Linked DNA regions of Homo sapiens. The protein of the gene in region 5 interacts with the protein of the main gene of each other region in a pairwise test. Each region holds a gene or a part of one and is shown on either strand. Other genes may lie near its edges. The genes, in order: MADD, AKAP6, KIF5C, YY1AP1, PCNT, SHTN1 and DNM3.

The links.
Region 1: the proteins of PCNT (region 5) and MADD interact in a two-hybrid assay, tested with the Homo sapiens proteins (one large-scale study listed by BioGRID and IntAct).
Region 2: the proteins of PCNT (region 5) and AKAP6 interact in a two-hybrid assay, tested with the Homo sapiens proteins (one large-scale study listed by BioGRID and IntAct).
Region 3: the proteins of PCNT (region 5) and KIF5C interact in a two-hybrid assay, tested with the Homo sapiens proteins (one large-scale study listed by BioGRID and IntAct).
Region 4: the proteins of PCNT (region 5) and YY1AP1 interact in a two-hybrid assay, tested with the Homo sapiens proteins (one large-scale study listed by BioGRID and IntAct).
Region 6: the proteins of PCNT (region 5) and SHTN1 interact in a two-hybrid assay, tested with the Homo sapiens proteins (one large-scale study listed by BioGRID and IntAct).
Region 7: the proteins of PCNT (region 5) and DNM3 interact in a two-hybrid assay, tested with the Homo sapiens proteins (one large-scale study listed by BioGRID and IntAct).

What each region holds. Positions count from the first base shown.
Region 1 is NC_000011.10:47,286,909-47,290,987, forward strand, and holds part of MADD (MAP kinase-activating death domain protein), read left to right. Parts: intron 1-2,059; coding exon 2,060-2,119; intron 2,120-2,482; coding exon 2,483-2,585; intron 2,586-2,880; coding exon of another isoform or gene 2,881-2,958; coding exon 2,959-3,145; intron 3,146-3,240; coding exon 3,241-3,391; intron 3,392-3,701; coding exon 3,702-3,908; intron 3,909-4,079. UniProt on the Homo sapiens protein: Guanyl-nucleotide exchange factor that regulates small GTPases of the Rab family. Converts GDP-bound inactive form of RAB27A and RAB27B to the GTP-bound active forms.
Region 2 is NC_000014.9:32,332,142-32,336,220, reverse strand, and holds part of AKAP6 (A-kinase anchor protein 6), read right to left. Parts: intron 1-4,079. UniProt on the Homo sapiens protein: Binds to type II regulatory subunits of protein kinase A and anchors/targets them to the nuclear membrane or sarcoplasmic reticulum. May act as an adapter for assembling multiprotein complexes.
Region 3 is NC_000002.12:149,021,509-149,025,587, reverse strand, and holds part of KIF5C (kinesin heavy chain), read right to left. Parts: intron 2,511-4,079; 3' UTR 1-2,510. UniProt on the Homo sapiens protein: Microtubule-associated force-producing protein that may play a role in organelle transport. Has ATPase activity. Involved in synaptic transmission. Mediates dendritic trafficking of mRNAs.
Region 4 is NC_000001.11:155,667,696-155,671,774, forward strand, and holds part of YY1AP1 (YY1-associated protein 1), read right to left. Parts: intron 2,770-4,079; coding exon 2,625-2,769; intron 1,083-2,624; coding exon 932-1,082; intron 1-931. UniProt on the Homo sapiens protein: Associates with the INO80 chromatin remodeling complex, which is responsible for transcriptional regulation, DNA repair, and replication. Enhances transcription activation by YY1. Plays a role in cell cycle regulation.
Region 5 is NC_000021.9:46,414,251-46,418,329, forward strand, and holds part of PCNT (pericentrin), read left to right. Parts: intron 1-1,818; coding exon 1,819-2,589; intron 2,590-3,953; coding exon 3,954-4,056; intron 4,057-4,079. UniProt on the Homo sapiens protein: Integral component of the filamentous matrix of the centrosome involved in the initial establishment of organized microtubule arrays in both mitosis and meiosis. Plays a role, together with DISC1, in the microtubule network formation.
Region 6 is NC_000010.11:116,994,722-116,998,800, forward strand, and holds part of SHTN1 (shootin-1), read right to left. Parts: intron 1-4,079. UniProt on the Homo sapiens protein: Involved in the generation of internal asymmetric signals required for neuronal polarization and neurite outgrowth.
Region 7 is NC_000001.11:172,383,191-172,387,269, reverse strand, and holds part of DNM3 (dynamin-3), read right to left. Parts: intron 138-4,079; coding exon 1-137. UniProt on the Homo sapiens protein: Microtubule-associated force-producing protein involved in producing microtubule bundles and able to bind and hydrolyze GTP. Most probably involved in vesicular trafficking processes, in particular endocytosis.

The DNA.
Region 1 (4,079 bases), on a different chromosome or scaffold from region 5:
TATGGAGAGCCTGGCAGCGTTCATAGAGCACAGCCTCTCACCTCTCACGCACTCATAAGCCTGTCAACCCAGGGCTTAATGAGTGCGCCAGGTAGTATTGGTTAGTTTCTAGGGGCAGTTAAAACCTTATGTGAAAGCCAGGCGCGGTGGCTCACGCCTGTAATCCCAGCACTTTGGGAGGCCGAGGCGGGTGGATCACGAGGTCAGGAGTTCGAGACCAGACTGACCAACATGGCGAAACGCCGTCTCTGCTAAAAATACAAAAGTTAGCCATCTGGTGTCACGCACCTGTAATCCCAGCTACTTGGGAGGCTGAGGCAGGAGAATCGCTTGAATCCAGGAGGCGGAGGTTGCAGTGAGCCGAGGTCGCGCCACTGCACTCCAGCCTGGGTGACAGAGCAAGACTCCGTCTTAAAAAAACAAAAAACAAAAAACGAAACCTTATTTGAATTGGTTTGTGCTATCTGACAGTTTCAGGGGCTTTTCTGAATTTGATTTTTTATTTTTTTTATTTTCTGAGACAGTGTCACTCCGTCACCCAGGCTGGATGGAGTGCAAGGTGGTGATCTTGGCTCACTGTAACTGCCGCCATCCAGGCTCAAGTGATTCACATGCTTCAGCCTCCCGTGTAGTTGGAATTATAGGCACATACCACCTCGCCTGGCTAATTGTTGTATTTTTAGTAGAGACGGGGTTTCACCATGTTGGCCAGGCTGGTCTTGAACTCCTGACCTTGAGTGATCTGCCCACCTTGGCCTCCCAAAGTGCCAGGATTACAGGTGTGAGCCACTGCACCTGGCCTGATTTTTTTGTTTTCTCTGGATGGTATGACGAAATATTTAACTGTGGTAGGAAGTGCAGTGAGAAACATGTATTTTTTTTTTTTTTTTTTTTTTTTTGAGACAAGAGTCTCGCTCTGTTGCCCAGGCTGGAGTGCAGTGGTGCAATCTTGCCTCACTGCAAGCTCCGCCTCCCGGGTTCACACCATTCTGCCTCAGCCTCCTGAGCAGCCGGGACTATAGGAGCCTGCCACCACGCCTGCCTAATTTTTTGTATTTTTAGTAGAGACAAGGTTTCACCGTGTTAGCCAGGATGGTCTCGATCTCCTGACCTTGTGATCTACCCGCCTTGGCCTCCCAAAGGGTTGGGATTACAGGCGTGAGCCACCGCACCTGGCCAACCTCATGTATTCTTTAACTGACCTCTCATTCCTAGTGGTAAAAAATGTCAGGTTACTTGGGTGCAGTAGCTCACACCTGTCATCCTAGCTACTTGTTAGGCAGAGGCAGGAGGTTCATTTGAGCCCAGGAGTTTGAGGTACAGTGAGCTATAATTAGGCCAGTGCACTCCAGCCTGGACGACAGAGTGAAACCCTGTCTCTAAAAGAAGCCAACAGAAACAAACAAAGTTGTCAGGAGTCTAAGACATGTTCTTAGGTGAGGATGGGAACATTGGATAAATGGGCAAAAGGACATCAGAGCTGGCAGTGAAAGGAGCGAACTAGCACTGCCAGGGAATCCACATGTGGCCGGGTAGGCTAAGGATGGAAGGGTGTCAGTGTCACTGGCCTTCATTTGGTACATTTGAAGAGAAGAGCGATTGAAACTCTTTCATTGCATGCTGATGCTTTGTCGCATTTGCTGCACTTACCCTCTCACCCATCTCCCATCCTCATACCCTGACCCCACTCCCCACAACAGCATCTGCAAGATGGGTTGCTTCCCTGCACATACCCTCAGGCCCCTGGCCCTCTGTGCTGGATGTTTTCTGAAAACCAGCGGTCCCTGTTTCATGCATGTGTGTGTTCAGTACCTGAAGGCTCCCTGTGTCATTTACCCGCCCCTGGCTTGAGAGGCCAGTTTTAAGGGTGGTCTTTTCTTAGAGCCTTGGTTGTCTCCTGGTCACTTGGCTTCCAGCTCTGAGGTGCCCAAGAACCAAGGTTATGTGCATTCCTCAAGCTTTGGGAGAATGCTCAGATTATCTGGCTTACTGCTCCTCGGAGGGGTAGAGGGGTTGCGGTATTGTGGTACACCTACTAATTGTGTATTTTGTGTCCCAGTATTTGGGCTAAATACTCTAATGGAGATTGTTACTGAAGCCGGCCCCGGGAGTGGTGAAGGTGGGTCTTGCCTGTGAGCTGTGCATGATCTTTTTTTTTTCTCTAGCATCTTCTGTGCCTGCCCGAGGGCCATCCTTCTCATGGAGCAAGCAGCGTCACATGAGTGACCTGCTTGCCCCGTCCCCCGTGACGCCCATGCTTGCCCATGGGGCTTGCTGCTGGTGCATGTGGAGTGGCCTGAGTCTCCATCCCCACCTCCTCCACATTGCCATGGCTGGTTTCTACCTACGTATGATGCCTTGGTGCTACCCTCACCCAGCCCTTCTGAGGAACGGGCATGGAACATGGCTACTTAGGGCTGTGCTGGCATGAGCTCCTGTACTACAATAGTGATGTCTCTCATTCCTGCCTTCCCTGCCACAGGAAACAGGAGGGCGTTAGTGGATCAGAAGTCATCTGTCATTAAACACAGCCCAACAGTGAAAAGAGAACCTCCATCACCCCAGGGTCGATCCAGCAATTCTAGGTAATAAATGGTAGAGCTGTTTTAAAAGTTCTCAGGCAGAGGTGGGGTGGTTCCTCTACAGAACTTTAGGGATGCTCAAGAGTGGGAGAGAAGCTCTCAATGGGGTAGATGTAATCAATTTCTTGCCAGCACTTCTCATTCTGGCTTGATCTCCATGCAACTGAAAGCTTACAGTGTTGAGGGGGGTTAATCAGCAGCGGTGGGTATTTGGACAAATCGCGTGCTCCAGAGAGGTGGGGATGTGGTGCACTTGGACATTCAGAGACATGGCTTTGTGTTTTACCCCTGGAGGCAGACATCTAGTCTGGGTGAAAGGTGGGGGGTGCTCTGCAAAGGAGCTGATGACCACAGAAGCGGTGTGTGGACCCTGTAGTGAGAACCAGCAGTTCCTGAAGGAGGTGGTGCACAGCGTGCTGGACGGCCAGGGAGTTGGCTGGCTCAACATGAAAAAGGTGCGCCGGCTGCTGGAGAGCGAGCAGCTGCGAGTCTTTGTCCTGAGCAAGCTGAACCGCATGGTGCAGTCAGAGGACGATGCCCGGCAGGACATCATCCCGGATGTGGTCAGTGTTGGGGGTAGGGAATCGGAGTAACTGGAGAGAGGGATGTGAACACCACAGGCAATTTGCCAACGCTAGCCCCTGGGTTATTGTTGCAGGAGATCAGTCGGAAGGTGTACAAGGGAATGTTAGACCTCCTCAAGTGTACAGTCCTCAGCTTGGAGCAGTCCTATGCCCACGCGGGTCTGGGTGGCATGGCCAGCATCTTTGGGCTTTTGGAGATTGCCCAGACCCACTACTATAGTAAAGGTAGGGATCGTACTTGCTGGGCACCACGCCATCCCTAACTCTGCCACTTGTCTCCTGAAGAGAAAATATATGTGTACCCAGGACACGTTTCCCAGTGCCACGCTGCTTCCCATTAGGCTTTGGGATTTTATTTTCTAATGCATGTTTATACGCAGTGGGTATTCTTTGTTACGAAAAATAAGACATCAGCTCATCTTTCCTTGAACTTCTTCCATTCCGCACCCTCCTGTATCCTGGCTCCTCCCACCTCATATCTGCGCCTTGATTCCTACTCACTACTTCTCTTGACCTCTTGATATTTTTCCCTCAGAACCAGACAAGCGGAAGAGAAGTCCAACAGAAAGTGTAAATACCCCAGTTGGCAAGGATCCTGGCCTAGCTGGGCGGGGGGACCCAAAGGCTATGGCACAACTGAGAGTTCCACAACTGGGACCTCGGGCACCAAGTGCCACAGGAAAGGGTCCTAAGGAACTGGACACCAGAAGTTTAAAGGAAGAAAATTTTATAGCATCTATTGGTACGTATCAGTGTGTTTGGTGTGGTGGAGGGGTCCTGGCTTCTTAAATATCCCTTTCTCCTCAATTCATCCAGAATCCTGCCTTTCTCTGCCCCATGCTTTGCTTCTTAGAGAGGGAAGGGGGCCTGTGTCCATTTCTGGTGGTGTTTCTTTGTACTTCTCTAGTCTTTA
Region 2 (4,079 bases), on a different chromosome or scaffold from region 5:
AACTTACCTTTTTCCTGTGCAGCAAGTGCCATCATTCATACCCATTTTCTAACAACTCTCTGCAAATCTGTAGATTAATAGATTAACACAGCCACTTCTCACTGTGACATGATGGGTGGGAATGTTTCACCCACCATAAGGTCCAGGAGTTGGTCACCAGCATCTCATTATTATAAACAGTAATGGCAGATATGGACTTCTGAACATTAGCATGGCTGGAACTACCTTGCTGGAGAAGGGTTCATTATAAATATTGACTATAATTCCCTTTTAAATTGAAAAAAAAAAATGAACTTTTCCTGTAGTAATATAACCTCGAATTATAGGCCCTCTGGCCTCCTGGAGAGAGAGAATTAAAAAAAAAAAAAAAAAAAAAAAGGAGAAAAGGATAGTATTAAAAAAAAAAATACCCAGACAGCATAAATATGTTGTGTAATTTAAATGAGAGTTAAACAAAGCAGGTGATAAAAGTAATCAAGTAGTAAACAAAGGGCAAGAGAATTAATATAAACATTGAACCAACAGGATGGTTAATTAGCTTGCTTTGCAAAGAAGATTTGATTTCTCCCCTGAAAGCAATGGTGGTGACAAATAAACCTCACCTACCAAATATCTTCAAGTATAATGTAATATATCCCCCATTGCCTATAAAAGAAATGCCACTGAGTTCCTTTGCATGCCACTGAATTACCATCTACAAGGGCCTTGCTCTGGGTTGTTTTGACAATGGTCCCTTAGTTTTTCTAAGCACTACAATTTCTATTTGAATTGTTCCAGAGTAGGAGGAAGTGGGGAGTCTGAAACTCAAACATCTACAGGGCTCAGGCAGTATCAGTGGGGGCACCAAAAGGGCCATATGGGACTGGCTACATAAGGTCCACTGTAAAATAAAAATGTGGAGCCTCTTATTAAAAAATTATTAAGAATTCCAAGATGGTTACAGCAGAGTATTAAACTAAGTGTGGGCCCTTCTCAGTGCAGGGCCCTATGCAACTACACAGGTTGCACACCCATAAAGCCTGCCCAGCAGCCATACAAAACAAGCTGCAGGCTAGGTTTAGCTCATGTATTAGCCAGTTTGAGACCCCATTCTAAAGGCTCTACTAGCCAGGTGGGGTGATGTGCACCTGCAGTCCTAACCACTTGGGAGGCTGAAGTGGGAGGATCGTTTGAGCCTAGAATTTCAAGGCTGCAGGGAGTAATGATTGCACTACTGCAATCTAGCCTGAACAACAGAGTAAAACCCTGTCTCCAAAAAAAAATCTGAAAATAAAATAAAGGTTCCACATTCTCTCCCTACTTACCCTTGTGACTCAAAGCACACCACTGCAAGATGGCTGGAAGAGTTTGGAGCATGCCCCATGGCTGAAGAACAGAGAAAAATATGGCTGGTGGCTTATGAGGAAAACAAAGTCTGTCCTTTATCTTCACCAAATCTTAAAGCCAACTCAGGAATTCAATTACTGACCGGTATGTGCTCGTGGAGAAGAAACTGTATGCCTTATTAATTCAAACTGCAATAGTCCCCCTCATTATCAGGGAATATGTTCCAAGACCCCCAGTGGATGCCTGAAACCATGGATAGCACCAAACCCTACATATACTATGTTTTTTCCTATACATATATACCTGTGATAAAGTTTAATTTATAGATTAGACACAATAAGAGATTAACAATAACTAATAATAAAACAGAACAATTGTAACAATATGCCAGCATCACTAATCTTGAGCTTTGGAGTCATTATTAAGTAAAATAAAGGTTATTTGAACATGGGCATTATGATAGCGAGATAGTTGATCTGAAAACCAAGACGGCTATTAAGTGACTTAACAAGCTGGTAGCATATACAGCATGGATATGCTGGACAAAGGAATGATACACATCCCAGGCAGGACAGAACAGTAATGGTGAGAGATTTCACTGCACTATGCAGAACAGCGCATAATTTAAAACTTATTGTTTATTTCTGCAATCTTCCATTGAATGTTTTCAGACCACGGATAACCATAACCACAAAAGGCTAAATCACAAATAAGGGCGCGGAAGGGGCTACTGTACCTAAAACTCTGTTGCCATGGCCAAAGTCCTATATGGATTGCTATTCCTCTGAAAAACCACACTCAGGGCCCATCTACAGAGTTCAGTCAATATGATTGTTTCGAGAAATGCTTCCCATTTAAAGCAATACTGTAAGGCACACTAGGGCGATTAGATGAGACTGAAGGTAACTGGTATACCTGTCCTTGTACAACTAAGTGTGTAGTTGGTACCTTGTATGATACATACCTCCATCAGCAGGCTGGCTGGAATGCTCAATTTAGAGGGCTCTCTGGACAATTTTTAAAGGTGATGAATATCTTTTATAAAAACAAAAATATCTCTCCTTAACTGATCTGCCACACACATTTCATATTTCCATATGTCAAGTTTGTCAACTGAGATAGACATGCACTATTTGACTGATTATAATTTTATTTCTCAAAATAGTTTATACCAAAAAAATACTAATTGCCATATTGGTCTTGTCCACATCCAGAAAGATTCTAATCCAAACCCATGCAAGAAAAAAAAAAGTTATTATTTAATGCAGTAAGTTTACCTCCACATATAAACCATATAGCTATATGTACCTATACAAATGTGCACAGATAATGGGCTTCTCTAATAACACATGGAATAAAAAGTAAATAGAAATAGTATTGCAGTATTAGAGGAAATAAATTATTTTACCAATTTACCCATTTTTCCCTTCCCCTCTAGAATGTAGCTGGGGAAGAGATTTGCATCTGTCTTGCTCATTGCTATAGATTCCCTGACAATGCCTGGCATATAGGAGATATTCAATAAATATTTATTGAATTGAATTGAATCCATGCGATCAAAACAAACTGCCATTCATGGGTTCTAGGATTATAAATAGAAGAAAATCAGAGACATGTAGCAAGACCACCAACTTCCCTAAATTCCACTGGCTATTTTATTTCCTAATTGGAACCTAACTCCTGTAGTCATTGTACCTAGCAGCTTTGATGCTTTCTGATCAGCCTCTCATTCCTGTACCTCATGCAGACACAAGCTTGGGCCTCTTTGGAGCAGGTTAGGACAAAGGTTAACTTCTTCCTGGAACCTAGAAAAGGCTAATGAGCCCTGTGGAATAATATTTCTAAGTATTCACCATACAGGAATCAATATCAACATGCTGTCAGTGTGTGCATTAGCCCCACACTCAAACAAAGAACAGCCCTTAGAGCCCAATAATGACGCTGGGCGTGGATAGCTGGGGATGAGCAAGATGATACAGAAATGACTATATCAGCTCTCCTCAAACACAAGGCTTCCAGGTTATTACACAAGACTGTCATTCTTGTACTTTGTCAGAGATAGACAGAGTTTGGTTTCAGCCACTGATACATTCAGCAAAATAAATCCTCTATCTTCTTAACCTAAGAGATAGATTCAGATTACACTTTCCAGACTGTGAGAGAAGTTTCTGCTTCTGTTCTCAACACCAGGTTGAGAACAGAACCTGGTGCAACAGCAGGGAATACAAACATCTTAAAGTTAACAAAGCACCACAAATATAGCTGATAAGACAGGTTTATAACAAAGCTGAATCATTACTGACTCAGGTAAGACCTGCTTTGAGTGCAACTCCATCATGCCCACAATTATTGATGTAACATTTTCCATACAGAGATCCTGCTAGAAAGTTATATCAAGCAAGGGCAGTGGCAAAAGTCTAAGCATCAACTCTTCATTACTTAAATCTCTGGGTACAAAGTAAATATTCACATCTGATCAAGATTCATGCTCATCCTTACAGTGAAATCAACCTTAGTGTTGCAAATGACATTTCATTCTACATATGAAATCTGATTTTCCAATTAGAATGAGGAGGGGTGGGGTACGTGTGATAGAGTATAGATGACTGATCTGTATGGTATATACAGTAAAGATGTCATAAAACTGAGATGGCCGTGGGTAAGCATGTGTGCTGCATAGCCAGATCGCAATGGTTTGGAATCCTGGCCCAATCACTTATTAACTACATAACCTTAGCCAAGTTTATTCGCCT
Region 3 (4,079 bases), on a different chromosome or scaffold from region 5:
AAAGCTGCATATAACCAAAATCATATTCATGAGCTTAGTTGTTCAGAAGTGTGGTTTTTACATTTAAAGTACAGGGAGCAATAGTCTAAAAACCTGAAAATTGCACATATGTGGCTTTTTTAGAAAGTGGCCTACAGAGAACATGGTCCTGATATAATAACTGGCTTATTATACATAGCAATATTTAAGGATCCATTTGAATAATCCGTTCCAATAATTTGCCTCCCTTTTAGTCACACTATAGGAAAATTAGATTAGAAGTCCTATAAAGATTGAAGCTAGGTGAACTGACTGGCTGATCAGCAACTAGCAGAATTATCTTTAAGAGACATCAAAGCCAACTTTCTCTGTGAATAAAAGTAAAGCAAATGTTGTCAGTCCCTTGTAGAGATCAAGTAAAATGGAACTACAAGCGAATGTTTCCCTTTGAAACATGAAAGTGCCAAGCAATTCTTTAGAAGTAGAAACGGGGTACCCAGGGAAAAATCACCCTGGAAAGAATCTAAAACAATCTATTTTATGATGGATATTAACAAGAGCCAAAAACCATTACTGACCTTTGTTCAATTTCCAAACAAAAAGTAATGGAGAGTAGTGGTAATGACAATTAATAATTGGCAATCCTCTCAAACACCAATGTTTAGCTTCCCAAATCAGAAGCAAACATATCAACAAGGTTATGTGGCATATGTTATTACCTGATAAGCTTTGCAAAACCTGCCCCACAAGGACCCTTTTATCAGACCGCAAATAATGGTAGAGCAGGTATATTGGGCTGGCACTGATAACAAAATTAAAGAATGAAAAAAATTTAAACAAATGCAAAATTGCCATCTTCACAAAATAAATACTTCAATAGAATTTGTCGTCCTCTCTCTCCTTATTCCCCACCAAAAACAAAACATACATAAACAAAGTGCAACATTTAACAAATAAATTAAGTCAAAGCAGGTTTGCTTTGCTAGGGAAATTTTGTACAAGAAATGTTTGGATGTCAATGCACAGTTCTTAGCACTTTACACACATACACACACACACACACACACACACACACACACACACACACACACACTTGAGCTACCTTCGACCCACACAGTCATGAGAAAAGCCCAAAGTCTCCCCTGGCATATATTTCATTACAGTGGTGAAAGCTTCAGGGCACAGTGCCAGCTCACTCATCTTGGGCACACAACATGATAGGATAGGAGTTTCCACCGAGATTGGTTTGGTTGTCATTGACTTACCCCCAAATTTGTCAAAACAAATAGCAGCACAGTCAGTTTCCCTGAAAACTTTACTACTTGGAAATTGATCTTCTTAATAAGCACAACTGGAAGTAAGGGTTGATTCAGCTTTAGATTCATGTATTTGGATAAAGCAATAACTAAATGTAAAATATCCATCTATGTGGATTTTTTCTAATTGTGCCTAAGAAGATGAAACCTATTTGGTGCCAAAGAAAGAATTCATATAAACAGTCGCCAATTATGGGTTAAAATAATAACTTATTCATGGCAACTTACTCATACACAAGCACAAAGAACAAAATTTTGACAAGCACTTTCTCCCGAAGGCTTCCTTTTTCAACTGCTGGAATGATGTTGGATTTCTTCAGCAATACCCACTCAAGCTGAAAATGGTTAGAGAAAGCAGCCATTCCCAATGCAAGCTTCAGAACGATCAGAGAGGAAGTAGTGAGGAGAGGGGCAGCCACATTTCCACTTATCCAACTTTGCAGCATTTTCAGCACTTCTGAAAGAACGATGTTCAAACCGGGCCGGCTAAGACTAGTTGCTGCAGGTTCAAAAGCAAGCAGCTCGGAGGTGAATTTTATGACTTTTTGCATTTACACAGATGTATTTGAATGAACAAATTCTACACTGCTACTGTCAGATTGTTTTTCTGCCCCAAAGAAATTTGCTTTGCATTTTAACAGGTGCCATACTAAAAGGTATATTTTACAGATCCAAAGATGTGACCAGGATATTCAAAATGTGTCTTTGGGGTAATTTGTTTCGGAAAAGTGTTCAGAAGGAAAACTTTGAACCCTATAGCAGCACTTTTTGTTCCCTAAAAATATAAAACAATGTGTTTATTTTACAGGAAACCAGACAGTTGAGGCAGACCATGATCATCTGCCTCCACGGCACTTGGTTGTTCCCCTCTAGGGAATGGCACATTAGGGCGTACAGATGGGACAGTGCACTGCCCAGAGGAGGCTCCAGGAACCACCCAGAAACCACCCAACACCCCGGAGGCCGAGTCGGTGGTAATGGTTCTCAGTAGTAAGTGGATCTTCTGCAACCATCTCCTTCAGATTTCTCAAAAAGAGAAAAGTCCGAGCACACATCTGTACACACAGAAACTCTACACAGCTCAAAAGACCTGAAACTGGTGTACTGCAGATGGCTGGAGTAAGCAAGTATAAAAAAAAAATGGAAACTGTAGGGGGGGAAAAATAAAGGAATTGGTGATTAATGTAGTCCTTGACATGCTACGTGGAGTCATATCTGTTGAAAGAGAACCAAAGAGAGAACATAGGAATTAGAAAACACAGTAGAAATTTACTCCTCAAAAAAGTTTTGTTTAATTCTAGATGTTTAGACCAGAGCTGTCAGATACAAATATAACACAAGCCACATATTTTTTGTTTGTTTGTTTTTGAGATGGAGTTTCACTCTTGTCACCCAGGCTGGGGTGCAGTGGCGCGATATCGACTCACTGCAACCTCTGCCTCTCGGGTTCAAGTGATTCTTCTGCCTTAGCCTCCCAAGTAGCTGGGATTACAAGGGTTTGCCACCACACCCGGCTAATTTTTGTATTTTTAGTAGAGACGGTGTTTCACCATGTTGTCCAGGCTGGTCTCAAATTCCTGACCTCAGGTGATCCACCCACCTCGGCCTCCCAAAGTGCTGGGATTACAGGTATAAGCCACCGTGCCCGGCCAAGCCACATATTTAATTTTAAATTCTCTAGTGGCTACATTAAAAAGTGAAAAGAAATAGGTAAGATTAATTGTAATATATTTTATATAGCCTAAATAGTATTTCAACATGTAACTGGTATTACATGTTGAGATCGTTTACATTACAATATTACTACTGAGATTTTTTTTTTCACACAATAGTGTTTGCAATCTGGTGTATATTTTACACTTTCAGCCCATCTCAATTTGGACTTAGCCACATTTTGAGAGCTCAAAAGACACATGTGGATAGTGGCACATGAACAGCACAACCTCCGATTTCCTGATTTTGCTTTAAGTATTTAGTCCTGACAGTCTCAACATTCTCTTCCATAAGTCGGTATCTGTTGAGGCTATGGATATTCAGAGTAACATAATGCATTTTCTCATTCCTAGGGGGAAATTAAAACATTTCTCATTTGCCTGCACTTAGGATAGCAAGCAGGTGCAACAAGGCCCCTAACCCAGACTCTCTGTAGAAAGAGGTTCCCAGTTCCCAAAGGTATGCTTCGTCTCCATCGGATAATAAGATTCTCCAAAAGACCACCCCTGTCCATTTCATTCCACTTCCCACCAGAAGTTCGGCTGGTGCTGGGCGCATCTCCAGGATGAACGTCTAGACCAGCCTGAATGGCCTCTGTCAGCCTGCACCCAACATCAGTAAGCTCAACTTTCAGAAGACACTGAAAGGCTCTGTTTCCTGTCACCGGCTGGAGGCCCTAGCTCTGAGATCTTACTATAGGTTTTGTGCAGAGCTCATGGTACTCTAGGGGATGGGGACAGGGATGACAAGAGGGAGGTAGAGCCTTATCCTTAAGAAATACATGGAATTACCTGGTACTGGAAATACAACAGCCACTAAGAAAAGCCCAACTTCTCTTTTGATTAAAAAAAAAAAAAAAAAAAGCCCTCTGTAACCTGACACATTATGCATTATGCTTTCTGTTTTGCCTCTAGAAGGCTTATATCAACATTTGGTGCTCAACTGTGGTAATATCTCAGATTCCCGCTACCATGCTCTTTTTTTTCTTCACTCTTCTGATTTATATGTTATAATATTGTAAGCAACCTCACATATTTTGCATAAATCAGCAGGATGTAAGTTACATATAAA
Region 4 (4,079 bases), on a different chromosome or scaffold from region 5:
CCTGTAATCCCAGCTACAAGGGAGGCTGAGGCAGGAGAATCACTTGAACCCAGGAGGCAGAGGTTGCAGTCAGCCAAGATCGCACCATTGCACTCCAGCCTGGGGGTCAAGAGCGAGACTCCATCTCAATCAATCAATCAATAAGTAAAAAGAGTTGAGAAAAAGTATATAGGCTGGGCCTGGGCGACAAGAGCGAAACTCCATCTCAATACATACATACATACATACATACATACATACAGACACAGACACACACAAACACACACACACACACACACACACATACATGCATACATACAAACACAAAATTGAGAAAAAGTATATAGGCTGGGCACGGTGGCTTATGCCTGCAATCCTAGCCTCTGGGAAGCCAAAACTGGTGGATCACTTGAGGTCAGAAGTTCAAGACCAGCCTGGCCAACATGGTGAAACCCGTATCTACTAAAAATACAAAAAATTAGCTGAGCGTGGTGGGCACGCCTGTAATCTCAGCTATTTGGGAGGCTGAGGCAGGAGAATCACTTGAACCCGGGAGGCGGAAGCTGCAGTGAGCCAAGATCATGCCACTATACTCCTGCACTCCAGCCTGGGTGACAGTGCAAGATTATGTCTGACCAAAAAAACAAAACAAAACAAAAACCCAAAGCATGTAAGTGGAATACTGCATATCATTTCTAGAAAGTTCAAGAAAGAGAATTATTACAGGGAAACATGGATTTGTGGAATCTTTTAAGAGGATGAAGATACTCCAGAGGAACGTAATGAATGAATCAATGTCCCTGAAAAGGCAACAGGGGAATTAATCTAGTATATAAGTAGGAGAAATTAGCTTTAGATAAAAGAAGGTTCTTCTTTTCTTTGAGAATAACAAGAGAAAAGAACAGATATGTGTTGGTGAGGTGCCTGGATAGTGCATGCAGGAAACACTCACTTTAATGATGTTGTCAGGAGCTCTGTTCATGTTGAGGTTCTTGATTCTCACTGTCAGTTGGCGGGCAGTCTTGCAGGTTAGAAGGTACTTGCTGATTAGAGGGTTAAGAAACTCAGTCCCTTCAAAATGCTTCAGTCCTAAAGCTAACAAACTGAGAAAGGAGCAATAACACTAAATCTCACTTCACAGTCCTTCCTTCTAAAGGGCCTCCCCAGACTAACACATTTTACAATCTACTTTTTCTTACTTGTTCTTAAAACAAGGTCTCACTCTGTCACCTGGGCTGGAGTGCAGTGGCGTGATCGCAGCCCACTGCAGCTGCTACTTCCTAAGCTGAAGCGATTCTCCAGTCTCAGCCTCCCAAAGTGCTGAGATTACAGGCATGAGCCCATGGCGTGTGGCCCAATCTACTTTTTCATTTTTTTCAGACAGGGTTTTGCTCTGTTGTCCAGGCTGGAGAGCAGTGGCATGATTACAGTGCACTGCAGTCTTGAATGCCTGGGTTCAATCGATTCCCGCACTTCAGCCTCCTGAGTATCTGTGGCTATAAACGTTTGCTACCATGCCTAACTAATGTTTTATTTCATTATTTGTAGAGACCAGTTCTCACTTTGTTGCCTAGGCTGATCTTGAACTTCTGGCCTCAAGTGATCCTCCTGCCTCGGCCTCCCAAAGTGTCGTCATTACAGGTGTGAGCCACCATGGCTGGCCAATCTACTTTTTCTACAACTAATTCTTGTAGTGACTACTACAAGTTGGTGACTACTCAGTAGAAAATTTCAGGTATTTAGTGAGTAGTGATTAAGTACTATGAATAAGAATCAAATAGTTCACAATTAAGTAGGAGCAAGAGAAACTAGTCATAAATCATCAATAAATGTCAGATCATGATGAGCTGTATATTAACAACACAAAGGAAGTTCAAAGAGAATACATGGGAAGGAGAATGATTCTAATAAAACAAATATAAAATGAATAATAGGTACCCCGTCAGACAAATTAAACTGGCACCAATACTACCCTCTAACATAACATATATAATCATGGTTACATATATACATATTTGCTGTTAACAGTGTGGCAATACACACAAAGGGCCATAAAAATGTTCATAATCTAGCTGGGTGTGGTGGCTTATGCCTATAGTCCCAGCACTTTGGGAGGCCAGGAGTGGGAGGATCATTTGAGGTCAGGAATTCAAGAGCAGCCTGGGCAACACAGAGATACCCTCACCTGTACAAAAAAAATCAGCCATGTATGGTGGCACACGCTTGTGGTCCCAGCTACTCCATGGAGGCTGAGGCAGGAGGATCACTTGATCCCAGGAGTTCAAGGCTGCAGTGAGCTGTGATTGCAACACTGTACTCCAGCCTGGGTGACAGAGTAAGATCCTGTCTCTAAATAAATAATAACATTAGAAAAGCCAACCTCCTGCCTTGGCCTTTCAAAGTGCTGGGATTACAGGTGGGAGCCGCCATGTCCAGTCTAAAACATTTTAAAAATGTGTGTAACATCCCCCCAAAAAGCAGTATTTGGCACTGCTAGAACAAGCACGTTCTAGAGGACTCTGCTCATCTATACTGCTTTTCCTTTTGTGTCCATGTCTTATTATACAAGTCTTACTTCCCCTAAACTCCTCAAAGGAACTACATCTTCTCCTTGGGATATTTGATCCCCCAGAGTAAACACTTACTTGTCCTCAGCCTTGGTGAAGAGGATCTTATCCTGGGGATTCTTTGCCTTCAGGGAACACACTGGAAGTAACTCTGGATACATGAAAACCTTGCTTGTGGCCAGGATCCAAGCCACTTGCTTTGGCAAACAGGGAAATTCATTGGCTATAAGAAAATAAATCTCTGATAAATCAACTTCTAGGAAAAAAGAGGGCTTCAAAAAGCCTGTGAATGCATTTTTGCATTTAGGTAGAGCTGTCCTTATCTAACTTGATTCCCTCCCATCTGCCTACCACTCCCCAAAGAGTTTCCACAGTCTTTCCTCAACTAACATTAGGTCTAAAGGGAGTCCCATTCACTGGCAATAAAAGTTGACTTTTTTTTTTTTTTTTTTTAGACGGAGTCTGGCTCTGTCGCCCAGACTGGAGTGCGTGGCGCAATCTTGGCTCACTGCAAGCTCCGCCTCCCGGGTTCAGGCCATTCTCCTGCCTCAGCCTCCTGAGTAGCTGGGACTACAGGCGCCTGCCACCACGCCTGGCTGATTTTTTGTATTTTTAGTAGAGACGGGGTTTCACTGTAGACAGGATGGTCTTGATCTCCTGACCTTGTCATCCGACAGCCTCGGCCTCCTAAAGTGTTGGATTACAGGCGTAAGCCACGGCGCCCGGCCTCTCTTACTCTTTCTTACGTGTAACACTTTATTCACAAAGTAAAACAAACACTTAAAAAGTACCTAGTAATACCTGTCACATAGTGTATGCTCAAAAATGTTTTACCTCCTTTCCCCTTTAAATCTCTGAAGGATAACAGACCTTCAACAATGCTTTTTTCTTCCAGGATAAGATTCCAGGCCAGGCGTGCTGGCTCACGCCTGTAATCCCAGCACTTTGGGAGGCCGAGGCAGGTGGATCACCTGAGGTCAGGAGTTCAAGACCAGCCTGGCCAACATAGTGAAACCCCATCTCTACCAAAAATGTAAAAATTAGCCAGGCATGGTGGCACGCACCTGTAATTCCAGCTACTTGGGAGGCTGAGGCAGGAGAATTGTTTGAACCTGGGAGGCGGAGGTTGCAGTGAGCCGAGATCACCCCACTGCACTCCAGCCTAGGTGACAGAGCGAGACTCCATCTTAAAAAAAAAAAAAAGAAAAAAGATTCCAACTTCTTTAATCTCCCTCACAAACCTGGTATTCCAAATTTTACTTTTATTTCATTCTTTCTTAACTTTCATTAAGTTCTCCCAGATTCCTCCTGAGGTTGGGAACAAAAGAACCATAAAAGGAATGAGACAATTCAGTCTCATTCATTTCTGTCTCCCTCTCTCAGCCTCTCAATTTTAGGCACCTCTGCATTTCTAGAGACAAAACTACTATATCCATATTTCTCCTTCCATAAGTGTCATTTTTATATCTCCAGAAGAAAAACACAGGACACTAGATGTGTAAGATAATACTATAATTTGGTATTAAATCACGT
Region 5 (4,079 bases):
CGAAGTGCTGGGATTACAGGCGTGAGCCACCACGCCCAGCCTTAGATGGCACCTTTTGATGCACTGTCTGCACCTCGCCTCCTCCAGTCCAAGGCCCAGCGCAGCCTCCCTGGACACACAGCCACCCACCCTTCTCCTCCTTCTCCTCTGGGACACACATCTGTCCACCCTCCTCCTCCTCCTCCTCCTGGACACAGTCGCCCACCCTCCTCCTCCTGGACACACAGCCGCCCACTCTCCTCTTCCTCCTCCTTCTCGACACACAACCACCCACCCTGCTCCTCCTCCTCCTCCTCCTGGACATGCAGCCGCCCACCCTCCTCCTCCTGGACACGCAGCCGCCCACCCTGCTCCTCCTCCTCCTCCTGGACACACAGCCGCCCACTCTCCTCCTCCTGGACATGCAGCCACCCACCCTGCTCCTCCTCCTCCTCCTGGACACACAGCTGCCCACACTCCTCCTCCTGGACACACAGCTGCCCACCCTCCTCCTCCTGGACACGCAGCCGCCCACCCTCCTCCTGGACACACAGCCGCCCACTCTCCTCCTCCTGGACATGCAGCCGCCCACCCTGCTCCTCCTCCTCCTGGACACACAGACACCTACCCTCCTCCTGCTGGACACACAGCCACCCACCCTGCTCTTCCTCCTCCCCCTCCTCCCTGCTGTTTGCTAAATGTGCCCCAACTACTCCTCCAGGCTCTGAAACCCAGAGGCTCTAACACCAGAAGTGCTGGGCAGGTGTTTTATGGTCTCTAGGGTGGCACGGAAGCATGCTTGGTGCTGAAGCCTGCTGAGACCTGGGCTCACCCGAGCCCCTCGCAGCCCTCGTGAGTGTCCCGCACGTCGCTGGGACGTTTCTTGCATGAGTGCAGGTGCCGCCTGTTCCTGGGTCCACACTGCGTGCACCTCATTGGCGTTTAGAGCCTGAAAGATTCTTAATTCCACAGAAATCAGGGAAGGATGGGCCTAGGCCCGCAGTTCTGAGGAGACCCATGAACCTGGTTCGTGTGCTTGTCATGTGCTCTCGGGAAATACATCCTGTGTGGAGAGCCCTTCGCATCTCCTGCGGCAAACAGTCTTGGGGCCCTCATGACAGGAACGTTTCTTTGAATTTTTTTTTTTTTTTTTTTTTTTTTTTTTTGAGACAGAGTCTCGCTCTGTCGCCCAGGCTGGAGTGCAGTGGCGAGATCTTGAGATCTTGGCTCACTGCAACCTCCACCTCCTGGGTTCAAGCAATTCACTGCCTCAGCCTCCCGAGTAGCTAGGATTACAGGCACCCGCCACCATGCCTGGCTAATTTTTGTATTTTTAGTAGAGACAGGGTTTCACCATTTTGGCCAGGGTGGTCTCGAACTCCTGACCTCGTGATCCACCTGTCTCAGCCTCCCAAAATGCTAGGATTACAGGCGTGAGCCACTGCACCCGGCCCAATTTTTTGAATTCTTAAGAGAAAGCTCAGCCCTGCCTGCCAAATTCTTAGAAGTTACACACACAGAAACTCCAAATTCATCACATAAACCACAATTTTGTGTTTTCGGTGCTCAGATATAGAACCTTCCCATCCTTTTTCCCTTGTATGAAGCTTGTGTCCTCAATCACCGCAGAAATAGGTTATGACAGTTGCCTTTTAAGCAAGGAGATGTAAGCCTTGGTTCTGTTTCTCATAGAATTAAATAAACTTGAAATGTGCAGGGCTCATTGTGGAATCACCCGAGTGCTCCGAAACTCCCTGAAATCCACTCATTAACACCAGACAGGTGCGACTCCTGGTGAGCCAGGTATTCCACCGTGCACCTGTTCTGTTTCACCTGCAGGGTAAAGAAAAAGTACTGGAAGATTGTCAGCTGCCGAAGGTCGATCTCGTAGCTCAGGTGAAACAGCTTCAGGAAAAACTGAACCGTTTGCTGTATTCCATGACCTTCCAGAATGTGGATGCTGCCGACACCAAATCTCTGTGGCCCATGGCCTCAGCACACCTGTTGGAGAGCAGCTGGAGTGATGATTCCTGTGACGGAGAAGAGCCTGACATATCACCCCACATAGACACATGTGATGCCAATACAGCCACGGGGGGTGTAACTGATGTTATCAAAAATCAGGCCATAGACGCGTGTGATGCCAATACAACCCCAGGGGGTGTAACTGATGTTATCAAAAATTGGGATTCCTTGATACCAGATGAAATGCCAGATTCTCCCATTCAAGAAAAATCAGAATGTCAGGACATGTCTCTTTCTTCACCGACCAGCGTACTTGGTGGCTCCCGCCACCAGAGCCACACTGCAGAGGCTGGGCCCCGGAAGAGCCCGGTCGGGATGCTGGACCTGTCTTCCTGGAGCTCCCCTGAGGTCCTCAGGAAGGACTGGACCCTGGAGCCCTGGCCCAGCCTCCCCGTGACACCCCACTCAGGAGCCCTGAGCCTGTGCAGTGCCGACACATCCCTGGGGGACAGGGCGGACACCTCGCTGCCACAGACCCAGGGGCCGGGGCTGCTTTGTTCCCCAGGCGTGTCTGCAGCAGCGCTGGCACTGCAGTGGGCCGAGTCTCCGCCGGCTGACGACCACCATGTGCAGAGGACGGCTGTGGTAGGTGCCTGCTCTGCTCCCAGGCCTGCTGTTCCCGTGGGAATGTGGTCTGCCCGGCGCCACGGCAGCTGCCATTGTTTGTTCACCTCCTGACAGCACACACCTCGCAGTGCTGTGTGGGGCCAGCTCTGCAGGACTGGCATCATGGGCGCATTTAGATTATTTCAGTTGTTCAGGTATTTTTAAAATGCCTGAGATGCATTTGCCTGCCTCAGACATACCCTGGGCATGCTTCTCCACTGACGCTGACTCCAACGGGCATAGCCCAGACACGTCTTCGTGTGTGATGGGCATAGGGTTCTTTGTCCAGAATGGTTTTTTAGATTTATTTTTAGGAATGCTTCCTTTTTTTTTTTTTTTTTTTTTTTTTGTGAGATGGAGTCTCGCTCTGTCACCCAGGCTAGAGTGCAGTGACGCAATCTCGGCTCACTGCAGCCTCCGCCTCCCCAGGTTCAAGCAAATCTCCTGCCTCAGCCTCCCTAGTAGCTGGGACTACAGGCACACGCCACCACACCCGGCTAATTTTTGTAGTTTAGTAGAGACGGGGTTTTACCTTATTGGTCAGGCTGGTCTCGAACTCCTGACCTCATGATCCACCCACCTCAGCCTCCCAAAGTGCTGGGCTTACAGGCGTGAGCCACCATGCTCAGCCAGAAATGCTTCATATTTTTAACAGGTTTCACATATGCTAATTAATTTTAATTTATGAGTTAGATCGTATTATTTCTAACATAATCATTTTGGGATTTTGTGTATCTTGAGTAAGATAAAATTAAAAATCAGGTATGGTTGGGCTCATGCTTGTAGTCTCAGCACTTTGGGAGGCTGAGGCGGGAGGATTGCTTGAGCCCAGGAATTTGAGACCAGGCTGGGTAACACGGTGAGACCCTGTCTCTACAAAAAAAACACAAAAAATTAGCTGGGCGTGCTGGTGCCGCCCATGGTCCCTGCTCTTCAGGAGGCTGAGGCAGGAGGATCACTTGACCTTGGGAGGTTGAGGATGCAGTGAGCCAAGATTGAACCACTGCACTCCAGCCTGGGTGACAGAGTGAGACCCTCCCTCAAAAAATAATAATTTAGCAGATACATATTATCTGAAACATCCATATACTATCATTTCATGCAAAACAATTTAAATCTGAAATATTTACTATTGGCTACATTAAAATATTCCTAAAGAGCTGTGGGTGAATCTGATTAAATTGTTGGAAGCATTCGACCTGTGTGTTCACCAGTTTTGAGTTGTTTCATCTGGGGTCTATGTGGGAAGATAAATTCAGGCCTTTGAAAGTTTTCACCTGGCAAAGTCAGCGCTATGATGTAATTACTCATTATTTTATGACCATTTAAAAATCTCTTAACAGGAGAAAGATGTCGAAGATTTTATCACAACATCCTTTGATTCTCAAGAAACATTAAGTTCACCTCCTCCTGGATTAGAAGGAAAAGCTGATAGAAGTGAGAAAAGTGAGTTGGTTATCTTTCATTTT
Region 6 (4,079 bases), on a different chromosome or scaffold from region 5:
TTTCACAGTGACCTGTGATCCTATTTTGATTGTTTTGAATCTTTTTTACAAACCTCCCAAAATCAAATTGTAAATGATGTCTTTTTTACCTTAAACTAACTTTAGGATTTCCAGAGGGCTCCCTGGAAGTCTGAAAGTGACATATTAAATAAACCCATTAGGTTTATTCTGCATGCTAAATTATATAAGAAACATTGTCAAATAACATGTAATGCTAACCTTTGAGTTATTATTTGTATGAATGTTATTAATGTGTTTCAAAACTATGATATTCCTAGAAATCTAACATGCTACCTGTCATAATTCTGATTATGTTAAATTGTTATATCTCACAAACAACCAAATTTCCTTGTCAACTGCATTATTATCATAATGAACTCCCATCAGATCTTTAACCATGGCCATTTTAAGTCTTGTTGTTCACATTTATCATAACTGCTTTATTCTGATGCTCTTTCTAAAAGCTTTTTGCAAGCAATTATAATCCTAAAGTTTTGGGTCTTCAAGGAGGTATATGGGAAGAACAAAAAGAACTCTGACCTGTACAGGTCTCTGATAACTTTAAGGAAATACCAGTGGACTAGGTATGAACTCCAGAAATCTAAAGGAGAAACTGAACTCCTAAAATTGCTAACATCGAGCAAAATTAAGAATTAATTACATGGGACTAACATGATGAGGGACTGTGATTTTTAGGACTTTATTAGAAACACTACTGATTCTTTTATTTTCCAGATTTAGGAAAACATTTTCTTCTTTTGCGCTATCTATGGCTTAAGACAATTTGGTAAAGTATACTTTTGCAAATAGAATTGAAACATTTACTTTTCTTCCTTACTTGATCCCTCCAAAATTTGGAAACTATTCATGAGTATTCTTATTTTTAGGATAATATAGGCATTTGCATAAGTTCAGGAAGAATCCGTTCTTCTTTTAATAGGATACAATTGAAAATACTGGTTATATTGCCAAAGTTTGATGAGAATGTCGTATTTTCTGATATGACCAGTTTTTGGGAACTGAGGTCCCTAGAGGAACCTCAGTTTAATGGGGCCAATAAAGGCACCTTGGAAATACTGGCCTCGTACCTTGAATACATGGTTCAAATGGTTGCCTTATAGGGTAAAGAATGTCACCTTCCTGACAGGCCCAGGAACATCAGGAATCTAGGGAAGAGAGCTATCTATCTAAGACTACTATAGGCACAATCTGATGTTGAGTCCTAAGCTTGGCTTCTTAGCCTAAGGAGGCATTTTTGTAAGCCTAATCCGAGATTCCTTATGAAGAGTTCCAGCAAAGCAGATTTTAAAAGGGCTTACATAGTCAATCACTATTTTTGCTGCATTTATGTAAATAATTAGGCCAAGTATAATAGACAAAAACTTATTTTACAAATAAACTGGTCTTACTGATTCTTTTTGGTAGAAATTAGTGTGAGAGAGGAAAAATATTTTCAGAAAAATAATAGTTCAGAAACTATAGTTCACCCATTACTAGATTCTAGCCCTGTTCATTGTTTTTGAGATTTTATTAACTACCTGCAATCTGGAATGGATCCTAAATTCTTTTAGTTTTTTCTGATACCTGGCTGTGAGTCTCCAAACTAACATTTCCAATTTTTCTCCCACCCTTTGACCTGGAATCACTGAAATTAAAATTGGGCTTTTTCTGAAGCTATGCAAGCTAAAGCTGGACAACTTGATACAAACATAAGAGAAATCACCACAACAGCTTTTGTATCGACAACCTTTATGATATTTAAACTACAAACAAGGAAAATCTGTCAGATTGCAATTGCCTGCCCCACTCCAGCTGAAGACACTTTGAGCCTAAGATTTATAAATCCTCTCAACTGGCTGCTCTCCAGACTCAGAAACTAATTTATAGACTGCTCTAAACATTAACCTTGCTTTTCCTTTTTTTTCATAGAAATGTCTCTTATTAAGTATTTGTATGCTTATACATATAGAAACCTAACATTAAAGAGATCACCCATAACACCACCTCTTGAAATAAAACATGACTGTTTACCTAAACTAACCTAGTCTCAGGACTAAGAGACTGACTCAATAAGATATGAGACAATATACTTAAATCTGTTCTTTTCTGCTGGTTCCAATCTGGTTTTCTTCCCCTTTGCCAATCACTTATCTACAACCATACCTCTCCAAAGCTACCAGCCTAGCACATAATATGTGAGACTTTCTGAAAGTAAAGTTTCAAAGGGGAGAACTGAAGGAAACCAGCCTATCTCCCCAAAATATGAAAGACCTTCGAGCTAAAGATAATTAGGATGAAGGAAACTATCTGCCTTCCCTCTGTCTGCCTAAAAGCAGGACACAGAATTACAAAGACAAGAGGTCTATCTTCTCCCCATTTCCCACCTAAAAACAAGATACCCATTCTCCTTTACAACCCATATCACCTCAGAGATGGTGGCAGAGAAATCTGCGAGTAGACTTTACCCCAGGAGTTTCCCCATAAACTCACCTTCCCACATTCTCCTGCCTTTGGAAGCCTGGAACTGCTTTCCTTTGTCCTAACACTTTTCTAAATGTATAGTTCTTTGTTGAAGACAGTATGTTGAGCCACTGCTTATTTTTCTCCCTTGCGATGTGCACTGCATGCATTAATAAACTTGCTTGTTCATGTCTTTTGTTACAGGTATCTGTCCCAATTATGAACTTACAAGGTTTGAGGGACAGATTATTTTTTCTACCCTTCAATCCTTAAGGCATCTCTTGACTATGACAGTTTCTCAGACTTTACTCATTTTTATGACCTTGACAGTTGGGAGAAGTGCTGATCAGGTATTCTGCAGAACGTCTCTCAATAGGGATTTGCTGATATTTTCCTCATGAGTCGACTGGCTTTATGGGTTTTTAGGGGAAGACCACAGAGGTAAAACGCCAATTCATCACATCACACTATCATGCTATCATCATTGTTGATGTTGGCCTTGATCATCTAGCTGACATAGTGTTTGTCAGGTTTCTCCACTGTAAAGTTACTGGTTCCCCCTTTTCCATATTGTAGTCTTTGGCAGGAATTCACTATGTGCTGCCCACACTTAAGAATCAGGGAGTTAGGGCCAGGCGCGATGGCTCACGCCTGTAAACCCAGCACTTTGGGAGGCTGAGGCGGGTGGATCACGAGGTCAGGAGACCGAAACCATCCTGGCTAACACGGTGAAACACTGTCTCTACTAAAAATACATAAAATTAGTCAGGCATGGTGGCGGGCGCCTGTAGTCCCAGCTACTCGGGAGGCAGAGGCAGGAGAATGGTGTGAACCTGGGAGGCGGAGCTTGCAGTGAGCAGAGCTCATGCCTCGGCACTTCAGCCTGGGGGACAGAGCGAGACTCTGTCTCAAAAAAAAAGAATCAGGGAGTTAAGATACACCGCTTTGAGGGGGAACATCTACATAAATTATTTGGAATTGCTCTGCATGGGAGATTTGTCTTTAATCATTTATTTATATCAGTATCAACTCATGAATATTACTTCAAATTTTGAATTATAATCCAATATTCTGTTGTTCAGAGTTCCGTCTTTGGACATTGGATGTTCTTTCCATCGGCTCTTGTGTCTCTGACAGACAGTAGTTTCCCTCTTATCTACCGTTTCACTCTTCAGGGTTTCAGTTACCCATGGTCAACATGGTATGAAAATAGATGACTACAGTACCACAAGATATTTTGAGAGAGAGAGAGAGAGACCACATTCACATAACTCTTATTACAGTATATTGTTATAATTGTTCTATTTTATTATGAGTTTTTATTATCTCTTATTGTGCCTAACTTATAAATTAAACTTTATCACAGATACGTATGCACAGGAAAAAACTTGGAATATATAGGGTTTGTTATTATCCATGATTTCAGGCACCTACTGCAGGTGTTGAAACATAGCTTCCTCCATGGGTAAGCAGGGACTACAGTATCTCCATCAATGTCAGCTTATCAGTTGGTGCATTTCCTTAGTTTCCACACTACAAGATGCCCTAGGCTCATCTTGTATATTTCCTGCCCCTTTCCTAAAATTAGCCATTTCTCCTAGGAACCCTGTTCGTTTTAT
Region 7 (4,079 bases), on a different chromosome or scaffold from region 5:
GCTTCTTTCAGTGCTTGATACATTCGAAGCATCTCATCCCGGCGCTGAGCCTGCTCAGCAGATTCCTCCATCAGGGTATTTTGGTCCTCTGAAGAATACAACTGTGCTAGGAGCTCGGAATTTATGAAATCTTTAACCTGTCAGATCACCACAGAGAAATAAAAATGGGAATAAATGAGTGACTGAGTGGAGGTAGAAACATGGCTGTGGCAGTCAGAGTCTGGACAAAGTCCACCAAAGTCCACCAAAGTCCACCCTGGGAAAAGTGAAGCACCAAGCGTCTGTTTACTTTTGTTTTGTCTCTATCCCCAGTACTGGTGACAGTAACAGTTTCCCTCTGTCTTTTGGCTGTCCACACTGAAGGATGATAGAGATGAGTAGAAGAAGGCCAAACCCAGCCATCACCAGAACAGGGCCTGCTGGCTTTGTGAGCATTTCACAATATTGTCTGGAGCTGTTTGGCTTATAGAAGAGGGAAGGTACTATGAGGTAAGAAGCAGTATTTTCAACAGAAAACAGTGATGTGAAGAAACCTATGTAATCACACGTTTTCCATTCCTTGGCATTCGCAGTCCTTTCCCTAGCTTTTACCAAAATCACTGGAAAATTATTGAGATGCCAAGTTTCAGTGTCGTCTCAAAAGTGAAATTAGCACCAGTAAGTGAATATTTATTAAATACAGAATCTTATATAACTATGCAGGTTGATTTATAAACAAGTGAAAGAGATGCACTCTGTTTTCCAGAAGTTTACAATAGAAGTTAGTTAACAGTGATGGGGACTGACATGAGGTTGCATAGTTAGCTAATATATAAAAACAAACTAAAGTATGAACACTATGTGGGAGTCTCAGGGGGAGGGGCATTTTGTTGCAGGATGAAAATGGAGAGGATGAATATGGTGCACAACACTGAGAGTGGGAACGCCAGCTACTGTATCTCATCAACTCTAAGACACCAGTGATTTTAAGAAACACTACTATCATATGTGCTGACTATTCAGACAAAAAAAAAATACCATCAATCAAACTTTGACAGGATGTCAAGATGCCATTGAGTATAAGATGCATCTTCATTTCAGAAATATTAAATAAAAAGAAGTGAATGTGAGAATCGATGAAGTATGGTATATACCAAGTGGCTTCATAAGTTATATGACAATTCTTATCACACACTGAAGAAACATGTATTAGTATTCCAGTTTTATAGATACAGAAACAAGTTCCAAGAATTTAAGTATCTTGTGCTAGGTCACACAGCATTCAGTTGAATCCATAACCTTCTGACTTGAAGTCCGGTGCCCATTCCCTTACCCCATTATCTCACTGTGATTGAGTGCTTAAAAAAGTAAATTTTTGTTTAAGTATCATTATTTTACAGTAGTGCAGCAATTAACTTAAGCCTAGTAAAAATAAGCCGTTTGAATTTTTCAGTTTCTCTGTTACATGAGAAAGCTAACTCTTATCTAGACTCATGAATATCTTTAAGAAAGGCCAAACGCAAGTATATATTTAATTGTTAAAAAATCAGGCAGATAACAGAACAGCTGTCAGATGCTCCAAATTTCTAGGATATGGTTAAATTTGTAATTCAGAGATGACAAGAACCTAAAACACATAGCTTCATTATGTTTTAAAGGCATCAAAACATGTAAATAATTCTACTAATCAAAAAATTCAGCTAAATCAAAGGTTTATTGTGGTGAAATAAAGTGTTTTCTGTACATATTTTGTAAACCAAGAGTGATTCAAAGGTGAAAGTAATCTAATACACAAGATGTATTTAGGAAACCCTCTGTGGAGTAGAGGTTTATGCACGATAGTTGTGGAAGGTAAGTTTGGCCAGGAATCCTGAGGCAGATGCGAAGGCCTTGAATGCCAAGGAAAAGTGTTTGAACTTTATTTGCTTGGCAATGAGGGGCCAGCGAAAGCGTTTAAGCAAGTAAGTGAAACAATAAAAGAGAGTTTTAGGAAAATTAATCTGGCTAACATTGAAAAAGACTTTGCAAGGGTGGTAGTGAAAATAAAGAAATCTGTTAGAAGGCTATTGTAGATCGTTCATAAGATGGTAAATGTTTCATTTAATAACGCAGTAGTATAAAAAATGGATACATACAATGACATTATAAGGGAATAATGAACTGAACTTGGTGCTGTTGGGATGTGAAGGGCAAGGAAGAAAGGAACAACCAAAGACATCTCAAGCATTGACATTTGGATGAGTAGGAGAATAGAAACTCAAACATCAGAAAAGAAAGTCAGATTTAGAGGGAAGGCAGCAAATTTGGCTTTAGGAATATTTCATTCCCTTCCTTACAGACGCATTCACTTCTAAATGTACTTGCAGGTATGCAGGGAATCATGGATATTTGCACAAATCTCCCACTGTTGGGTATGTATATGCAGTTGGATGCATGGTGCAATTCAAAACTCAAAACCAGACAATTTTCCTGGCATTGACCATTGGTTGGGTTAAGCTCTTTAGAAACTTTACATATTACTGGAATATCACTTAGAATCTATTAAATACAATTTAAAAGAAGATTCTTCCAAGAATAGATTTAAAGCAGAGCTGAATTAAGAATCAACTGTCAAACCATGAAGCAAAATAAGGGCCTGTTTCAGCATTCTGACCAAAGATGTGCCTTGAATCTTCCACAGCAATTATGACACACTGGAACTTGCCTACTGTGCAATACAGTGGATTCAGAGCATAGGCTGTGGATTTAAGTTCTAGTTCTAACACTTACTGTTCTTGGGCAAATAATGTAAACTGTTTGAGTCTCAGGTTCCTCATCTGTGAAATGAGGGTAGAGCTACCTCAAGTATTGTGAGGATTAAAGGAAGGAATGAATACAAGTTGTCTAGCATGATGCCCAGCACACAGTTAGTGCCCCTTCCAAAAAATGCTGTGATTTTTACTGTCTATAGGCTACATTGGCATTAGGTACATCGAGACAGGAGAACAATAGACAGCTGTTGCAACAGTACAGGTATCAAGCGACATAGTTAAATAGGGCATAGAGGTTAACATTTTTTATTTTGCATTTAAGCAAAATTTTAGAGATACTCTTCTCTCCTTCTGCTAACCTAGCTTTGTGACACTAAAATTGGAGTTTGGAATGAAGGTAGGGGGACTTCCGGGAGTTTCCAGACACTTCAGGGACTTTCTGGGAAGTCTGTATGCCAGTGGTATACAGACATTTAAATCTGGTACAAATATTTAAATCAAGAATTCTGCATGACAATCAGGGGTCAAGTGAATCCCTTTTAGATGATAGCATTTAGAAAATACTTCACCTAACATAACAAAGTGATTATACTTAAATTTGAGATCTGAAATAATATTTATGTTTTTAATTATAACACCTTATAACCTATACATCTCTGTATGGTTTGTAAAAGTTCTCACACATGAAACCTCATTCCAGCTCAAACTCTCTAGGCTAGATAAACAGGCATTACTGCACCATGTCGCTCTGCTCAGTGTAAAGGAATGTGAGGTCATTAAAAATGTTCCACATGTTTTCCTCTCTTACTTTAACCCTTCTCTAGCAACCCGTAATATGTTTGGATCTTAAACCTTCTTTTCTATGACTGAGACCATTTTAAACCCTTCACAAATAGAAGAGACATTTCTAGGGTTTTCCTACAGTTTCCTACAGTTCAGTTACCAAGGAGACCATTTCCTTAAAATCTCTTTGTTTCTAGAATTGGAGGGTCACAGTACGGAACACGGTGATGCCTCTCATTCACACAATACATGTATTAAAATTCAATTGAGAAGTTTAATTTTGTTTAGTTTTGGGGAGGGGGCTTGGTTAGAATTTTGTGATCTTTGAGATCTCACAATTCTCTCACATCTGCTTAGTCCTCCTTTCCTTTTCCCAGGGATTTAATTCTGCTAAAGACCAAGGAAGTTTTCCTGCTTTAAAAAGTAACATCCTTTGACTCACAAATGTAATGTTAAGGAAAAGAAGTTAGACACAAAAGGCGTATAGTATATGATTCCCAAGTGCAAAAACAGGCAAAACTAATCTACAATTTAAGAAAGCAGAAGAGTGTTAGCCTTGGCGGGGAG